Linked DNA regions of Homo sapiens. The protein of the gene in region 1 interacts with the protein of each later gene in a pairwise test. Each region holds a gene or a part of one and is shown on either strand. Other genes may lie near its edges.

Evidence for each region.
Region 2: the proteins of HEATR6 (region 1) and HUNK interact in a two-hybrid assay, tested with the Homo sapiens proteins (one large-scale study listed by BioGRID and IntAct).

The regions. Positions count from the first base shown.
Region 1 is NC_000017.11:60,076,061-60,080,561, reverse strand, and holds the start of HEATR6 (HEAT repeat-containing protein 6), read left to right. Parts: upstream 1-1,640; 5' UTR 1,641-1,647; coding exon 1,648-1,866; intron 1,867-4,324; coding exon 4,325-4,432; intron 4,433-4,501. UniProt on the Homo sapiens protein: Amplification-dependent oncogene.
Region 2 is NC_000021.9:31,917,921-31,921,732, forward strand, and holds part of HUNK (hormonally up-regulated neu tumor-associated kinase), read left to right. Parts: intron 1-3,812.

The DNA.
Region 1 (4,501 bases):
CAGTCACCCCTTGCAATGGCCAACTCAATAGCACATATTGGTATTAATTCTCCTTCCTTCCCTGTTCATTTCTGGATAAATCCCTCACCTATCAACCTCATCTGAGGCTCTGCTATCAGGGAACCCAGATTAAAATATCCAACGACTAGGTTTCAGCTCCTGATCTTCTCTGAACAAATGCTTGAATACATTTCTTTACACGAATACACACACACACATGCACATATATAACGCACATATGTACACAGACTAGGAATAAGAAATAATATACCAGCACAACGGAATCTAAATCCAAACAAAAAAATTAACATTTCTCCCCAAGCCCAAAGTCTTCAGAAAACTACCTCTGCTAAAGCATACCCCCAATTTTCACTGCTGAACAGAAATGTTTTGTTCTCAGGATAAAACATACATTCAGGTGACTTCAAGGTTTTCCCTAAGGGCCAAGGGTGAGGATTTGCTTTATATTTGCATAACTCAAAGGCCCTAGAGATGGTTTTCCCAATCTGCCCAACTGTGAAAGTCAAGCCTTCACTTCCTGGATGACTGAAAAGTGATCACAGATTTTTAAATGGCCATTTTATTCTCCAGCTTCTTGACTTCAAGGTTTCAGAAAATCTTGGGGTGTCTCATTTCAACCCGGTCACTCTTAGGCAGATTATATTTTACATGATTCAGTTAAACTCCAAAATTACTCTTCTAGTGGGGCGAGGTGCCTCATGATCCATGAGAGGATTCACACTGGGAAAAAGGGAGAAAAAGGAACCAAGAGTACAGCCAGCTGTCACTTAAGTAGGGAAAGCTGCCTTATATTCCACTGACCAGATTGCAATCACAGAGCCACAGCCAACTGCAAGGAATGCTAGGGAACGTAGCCTTTATTCCGGGTGGTTTTGTGCCTGGGGAAAGATTTTAGAAGAGTAGAAGGGTGCCTTAGAACTAGCGGTTTCTGCTACTGCCATCCACAGCATACCCTCTCCAACTCCAGCCCGAATCTGAAACTCTAGTACGGAACAGAGTACCTTCAGCCCTGTCCAGGAACAAACTCTGGGAGGACAAACTTTCTGGAAGCACAAATTGAGAACTCACTTTTCAGTCAGGGCTCAAGAAGGAGTGGCCGGCGAAAAATCTCCAAGCCAATTTCTTTCTTTTTTTTTTTTTCTGAGACGGAGTCTCGCTCTGTCGCCCAGGCTGGAGTGCAGTGGCGCGATCTTGGCTCATTGCAAGCCCTGCCTCCCGGGTTCACGCCATTCTCCTGCCTCAGCCTCCCGAGTAGCTGGGACAACAGGCGCCCGCCACCACTCCCGGCTAATTTTTTTTTTTTTTTTTTTTTTGTATTTTTAGTAGAGACGGGGTTTCACCGTGTTAGCTAGGATGGTCTCGATCTTCTGACCTCGTGATCCGCCCGCCTCGGCCTCCCAAAGTGCTGGGATTACAGGCGTCAGCCACCGAGCCCGGCCTCCAAGCCAATTTCTGACAAGCATCTGCAGGGTACCGGTCGGAGGAGTCCCGTAGTCATGGAAACCCCTCTGAGCCCCAGTCCGGTCTAAAAAAGGTACTTTCGGAACTAGAGCGCGCGGAACGGGAGGATGTCCCGGAAGTATTTCCCTGGGATCACCCCACCCACCCCCCCCGCCCGTAGAAAAGATGGCTGCTGTGCAAGTTGTCGGTTCGTGGCCTTCCGTGCAGCCGCGGGAGGCACCGCGGGAAGCAATCCCTGAGCGAGGCAATGGGTTTCGCCTCTTGTCTGCCAGGCTCTGCGCCCTGCGCCCGGATGACAGCAGCTCCGCCCGCACCGAGATCCACCTGCTCTTCGATCAGCTCATCTCCGAGAACTACAGCGAGGGCAGTGGCGTGGCCCCGGAGGTAGGCGGCGCGCCCTGCTGGCCCCGGCCCCGGCCCCACCCCTCCGGGAACCCAGCTGGTGGCCTCTGCCTGCCTTTCCCTGATCTTCCCACTCTCGCGCCTGATGATTTAGTTTCAGGATGGCGTGCCCCCTCCAACCTTGGCACATTCTTAGTTCTCCATTTGGAAGACCCTGCAGTGCTTGGCACGCTCGAGTCATTCAAAACCCAACTTGACGACTCCTGCTCTGATAATGCCTCGGGTTTCCTCTCTGATACCAACTTTCCATCCGCCCGCACCCTCCTTCACTCCCTCTCTGTGCACCCAGAACACTTGGTTGACAAAATGCATTACTACTGTTTATTGCGTACATGGTACACGGACCACGTGGGAATCTTAGAACTTGCGTAGTATTAGGGCTTGTTTGCTAATGAAAATACTGAAGCTCGTAAAAATACAGTATACAAAACTCTGCCACAAAGCCCCTATGTTTTCTGTTCCTACACACTAGCTCCTCCCCTCTGCCGTCTTTCTGAGTAATCTTACACACATCAGGCCTTAAATTAATGAATTCTCTGAACTGTTGACACCATGGCCTTCTGGCCCTACGTAGGAAAGAGGGAAGTGGTGCAAGTTGCCTGCTTGCACAGGCATCTCAAACTAGACAGTTCCTAAAGATGAAATTCATTAGCTCCAAACACGCATTCCCGTCCCCAGTCCATCCCACCTTCCAACACACATGCATCATCCACCAAGTCACACCAGACACAAACACTGGTTCTTCCCTCCTTCATCCCAGATCCTGACCAACTCAGGTATTTCAGAATGTGTCTCATATATATTTCTCAGTTCATCCCCTCCTGTCTATTCCCATAGCGAGTGCCTTAGACCTCAGGCAAGGCGACTTATGCCTGGACTGTTCGCTGATCCCCTCTGACTGATCTCCTGCCTCCTGTCTAGCTCCTCTCCAAGCCAGTCATTCCTCCAATGCCAGAATGATCTTTTCTTTAGGAGGAAAAAAAATTGTTCATAAACTTTAAAATCTGCTTTGGAAAAGTCTTCAATACGTATTGGTAAATGGTTGAAGCAAGTTGCAGGACAATTCATACAGAATGAGATCAGTATGAAGCTGGAGGAGGGATTTTAAAATATGTGTGTTTATATATGCAAAGTAAAAGGTCTGAAAGAATTGACTACAGAATAATAGTGTATGTCATTAGGAAGCAGAGTGAGATTAAGGCAGTAGTCGGGGACTTTTGCTGTATTTGTGTAATTGGATACTTTTGCAACAAAACTTCCATTCTCTCCTGTTACTCCCCCTTTTGTTCCTGTGTGCAGCCATTTAAAACTTGCTGTTCTTCAGGCACCTACTAGTGTTTCACACCTCCAGGTTTTTGCATACTCTGTCCACTTTGCTTGCAGTGTTTTTTGATGCCCTATCTGGCAAATTTCTCCTCATCCTTCAAATCATTCCAGATTCTGCTTTACAGTCACCTCCACAAGGCCTCCCTAATTACTGTTTCTGGACAGAGTTTGTACTTTATTCTTTCAGCACTTGATTCACCTTATTTTAATTATTTGTTGTGTTTCTTTCTCTCTCACTAGTTTGTGAGCTCTTTGAGGTTCAGGAACATGTTTGTTTTACCTTTGGAGCCCAAAGACCTAGCACACTATGACACATAGTAGGTGCTCAGAACCTTGTCATTCTATAAACATCGATGGATGAAGAGTGTGACTTGCAAATAGGTCCCTCTTTTTTTTTTTTTTTTTTTAAGAATTCCCTAATTATGCATAAAATCCATAGAAGTGTTAGGTCTGATTTTTCCCAATGGCATTGAAAATCTGGTTCACTTACCTTTTGATATTTTTAGCTTCAGTTTGTGCTTTCATACCCTAGAAGCCTTTTTCTGGTTATTTAATTATACTGTCTTTACATATAGAGAGCACAGAGTCTTCAGCCTGACCAAAACCGTACTGATTCTTTTCCTTTTTTTTTCTTTTTTCTTTTTTTTAAGAGACAAGGTCTCACTCTGTCATCCAGACTGGAGTGCAGCAGCAAGATCATAGCTCACTGTGACCTAAAACTCCTGGGCTCAAGCCATCCTCCCACCTCAGCCTCCCAAGAAGCTGGGACTACATACCACCATATCCAGCTAATTTTTTTAAAAAAGTTTTTTCTGTAGAGATGGAGTCTCACTATGTTGCCCAAGCTGGTCTTGGACTCCTGGGCTCAAGCAGTCCTCCCGCTTTGACCTCCGGAAGAACTGGGATTAGGTGTGAGCCACTGTGCCTGGCTTTTTCCTTCTTTTTTAGCACATGCTGTTTTTGTGCTATCACTTCATTTTTTTCCTTCCTGCCTCACATTTTCTTTCCCCATTTTGAATGTGAATATTTACTTTTATTTTCCCATTTGGCTGTGTTTTGAGGATCTTCACTTGACTAATAAGTATTTTACCTCTTATCTTTTTTTTTTTGGTAGGACGTTAGTGCTCTTCTTGTCCAGGCTTGCCGACTGGTACCTCTTAATCAGAATCATCTTGTCAGCAAAGTGAGCCAGCTTATCCACCATTTACTTAACAGATTACAGGTAATCATGTATGTAACTCTAGAATTCAGATCATGAACTTTGAGAGTAAGTAAATACCTTTGAAATACT
Region 2 (3,812 bases), on another chromosome or scaffold:
CAAAGATTTAATTTCACTCTGTAAAACTCCCCCGACTCAAGTAGTTTATTTTGCAGCTAGAGATCCATTATTGCATTAGGCTTTACCCAGTTAGAGTCAGTGTTAGCTTTGTTTTGCCTGCAAACCTCTGATTACTGTCAAATTGAATTAGATGTCTCCCTTTGCTGATCACTGATTGACTTTTCCTTAATTTCCCATTCATTTTTTTTCCCCATTTCAGTTGTTATAGATGAAGTCGATTAAATGGTTTTGTGTAATCAAGAACGGCATTCCATTTCAGTATTATCAACTTGTAAGTATGGAGCTTGTAAGTCAGGGGGTGGATGAAAACAAGCTGATAATGAGCTGGTATTTGAAAATTGAGAGGGAGCTTAATAGGAAACCTTCTCCAAGGTGAGGTAGCTTAAGGGCTCAGGGTTTTCATGGAGGGAACCTTGATGGCAGAACTTGGGAATCAAGGTGTCAGATGATGGTAGGGCACACACCAGGGGTGTTAGTTTCCTGCAGCTGCTGTAACAAATGACCACAAACTTGGTGGCTTAAAACAACAGAAAGTGATTCCCTCACAGTCTGGAGGCTGGAAGTCCAAAATCAGTCTCATTGGAGATCAAGGTGTCAGTAGGGCCACGCTTCCTCCAGAGACCTAAGGGGAGACTTGGACTTTGCTTCTTCTCCCAGCCCCTGGTGGCTGCCATGGGCATCTCCTGGGCTTGTGGCCATGTTATTCTCTTGTCTCCGTCTTCACTTTGCTTTCTTCTCTGCTTGTCCATCTGATCCCCTCCGTCTTTTAAAGACATTTTTGATGGCATTTAGGACTCACCCAGTTAATCCAGGACAGCCTCCCCATCTGAAGACCATTAACTTCATCATGTCTGCAGAGTCCCATCCCCCTAAAGATGACATTTTCAGGTTCCAGGGATTAGGATGTGGGCCTATCTTTGGGAGGCCATTTTTCGACTTACCACACTGGGCCTGCTTCACGGAAGGCCTTGGTACGACGGCCCAAGGCCTGGGCTGGACTGAGTGGTATGAGGTTGAGGGGCTGGACTGAGCGGTATGAGGAGGAGGGGCTGGACTGAGCGGTATGAGGAGGAGGGGCTGGACTGAGCGGTATGAGGAGGAGGGGCTGGACTGAGCGGTATGAGGATGAGGGGCTGGACTGAGCGGTATGAGGAGGAGGGGCTGGACTGAGCGGTATGAGGATGAGGGGCTGGACTGAGCGGTATGAGGAGGAGGGGCTGGACTGAGCGGTATGAGGTTGAGGGGCTGGACTGAGCGGTATGAGGAGGAGGGGCTGGAATGAGTGGTATGAGGATGAGGGGCTGGATGGGGTTTCCAGGGGGTATTTCCCCAGCACCATAGATCACCTCATTGCCTTGTCCTTTCACCTTCAGGAAAGGGAGGAGGATGGGCTAGAGAAAGAGCAAGAAGTGAGAGAGTGGGGAGAAATGCTTGGAAATACTGCATTTGCACAGAAGTTGGAAGGTACAGGAAGAACTGCCTAAAGAAAAGCCTAGCATGCACCCTTAAGCCTGGCATGTGGGAACCAACACCAATTGTTAGGATGACTGTAATCGTACGGCTGTGATAATGAGGTCTAGATTCATGGAAAGAGCCACCTGGGCTGTCCTTTCTGTTCAGAGTGGTCTGCAGTGTAGACACTTGCTAACCAATTGTGGAGCTTCATAGGGTCCTATTTTGACATAGCTCATGGAGGTGCAAAACCCTGATATGGGCTGGTTCAGCCCTGGGAGTGGAGCCTGAGAGGGAGTTCGTGAAGACTCTGCTCTCCGTGGGTCTCATGGACGTGCGGGAGCAGAGGGGACGGTGGAGTCAATGAGGAATTGTCAGAGGCTCCTGAGACTACGCTGAAGGGCTAGAGTGAGGAGGAGAGAGAGGCTGCCGGTGAAAGGTGGCGTCATTCCCCACTGCCAAGGAGGGTCTCTCCATGCCTGGAAATGCGTCCCAAAGGGCATCAGATAGATTCCTTATATTTTCAGGGAAGCTATTTGTTCCTTGTGGCTGCTATAACAAATTACCACTCTGGTGGCTTAAAGTAACAAATTGATTCTCTCACAGTTCTGGAGGCCAGAAGTCTTAAAAAGTATTGGCAGGGCCACGCTCCCTCCAGAGACTCTAGGGGAGGATCCTTCCCTGCCTCTTCTGGCTTCCAGTGGCAGCCAACATTCCTTGGCTTGTCGCCCCTCACCCCAATGTCTGCCTCCTTCCTCCTGTGGCTGCCCCCTCTGCTTATTTGTGTGAAAACTCCTTCTTTCTCTATTTTATAAGGACACTTATGAGGACATTTAGGGCCTACCCAGGTAATCTAGGCTAATCTCATCTCAGAATTCTTCACTTAATAACTTCTGCAAAGACCCTTTTTCCAAATAAAGTCACATGATCCAGAGATTAGGCCATTATTCAACCTGGTACAGGCAATTGAAGAACTCAATAAGGTATCTTAACTATAATTGTGTACTCTGTTAAAAAGGCAGATTGTATTACTGCTGGGCCTTTAGACTTGTTTGTTTACAGTACTTGTAAGAATTTCATTGCCAGAGGGTGTAATTTTTTAGATACTGCCACACGGAGTGGAGCAAAGACAATGCCTAATTGTACTTTTCAGCATTCTTTTTTCTCCACCTCCCCAAGAGGATGGATATGAAATATGTGTGTGTCTATGTGTTTTTGGAGGGTAACAGTTAACAAAGCTGTTAGTTTAGCATCCCTTGAACTACTTGGGGCCAGACACAGCCAGAGTGTAACTTTACCTCCTGGGGGCTGAGAGCATCAGCCCGAGCTGACTTGAGGTAGTGCAGGCCCCATGCTGTGAGGTGTGGATGGCAGGGGCTCTTCTAGCCTGTCTGGTCCCCTTGGGGGCTGATTGACTCTTTGTTACTCCCATCTTTGGATTAAGGGCCTGAACCTCCCTATTAAAATGAGACTCTGGGCTGGGCACGGTGGCTCATTCCTATAATCCCCGCACTTGGGGAGGCCAAGGTGGGCGGATCACTTGAGGCCAGGAGTTTGAGACTAGCCTGGCCAACATGGCCAAACCCTGTCTCTACTAAAAATACAAAAATTAGCTGGATGTGGTGGCGGGTGCCTGTAATCCCAGCTACTCAGGAGGCTGAGGCAGGAGAATTGCTTGAACCCGGGAGGCAGAGGTTGCAGGGAGCCGCCAAGATTGTGCCACTGCATTCCAGCCTGGGCCACAGAGCGAGATTCCATCTCAAAAAAAAAAAAAAAAAAAAAAAAAAAAGAAGGAGACACTGCTCTATAGAGGAGATAATACATTATGCTGTTTATAGCCATCTTTGCTTTGGTGATTCCATTGGTTAGTCACTATTAGTCACTTGCTGTTTATGAAGCGCTGTGTGTCGTGAAGGGGGAGTGGTCCCTGCATTAAGCCATGACTTACATCTTACTGCAGATGCTGTTGTATAGGGACGTAGGGAAGGAAGGTGCGGGGGAGTCTCTCTGGTAGGGAGGTTAGCCTCTGAAGGACCTGGGGTTGGGGGCTTGAGTGGGGGAAGGGGGTGGCTGGAGTACCTGGAGAGTGATAGAATGCATGTCCCAGGGAGTGACAAGACATGCCAGGAGGGAGAGCTGGGAGGAGTTGGGACCGGGTGGTGGTGGGGCTGATGGAGAAGATGCTTGGGTGCTCCCATAGGCAGCAGTGAGACCTCAAGAGCTTCTGCAAGAAATCAGAGTTCTAGACCCACTGATTTGGAGGCAGAGTGTAGAATGAATTCAAGAGGCCAGGAGGAGCCTCAAGAAGAGGTGACATCCATGCCTTAGTTCACCCTGGG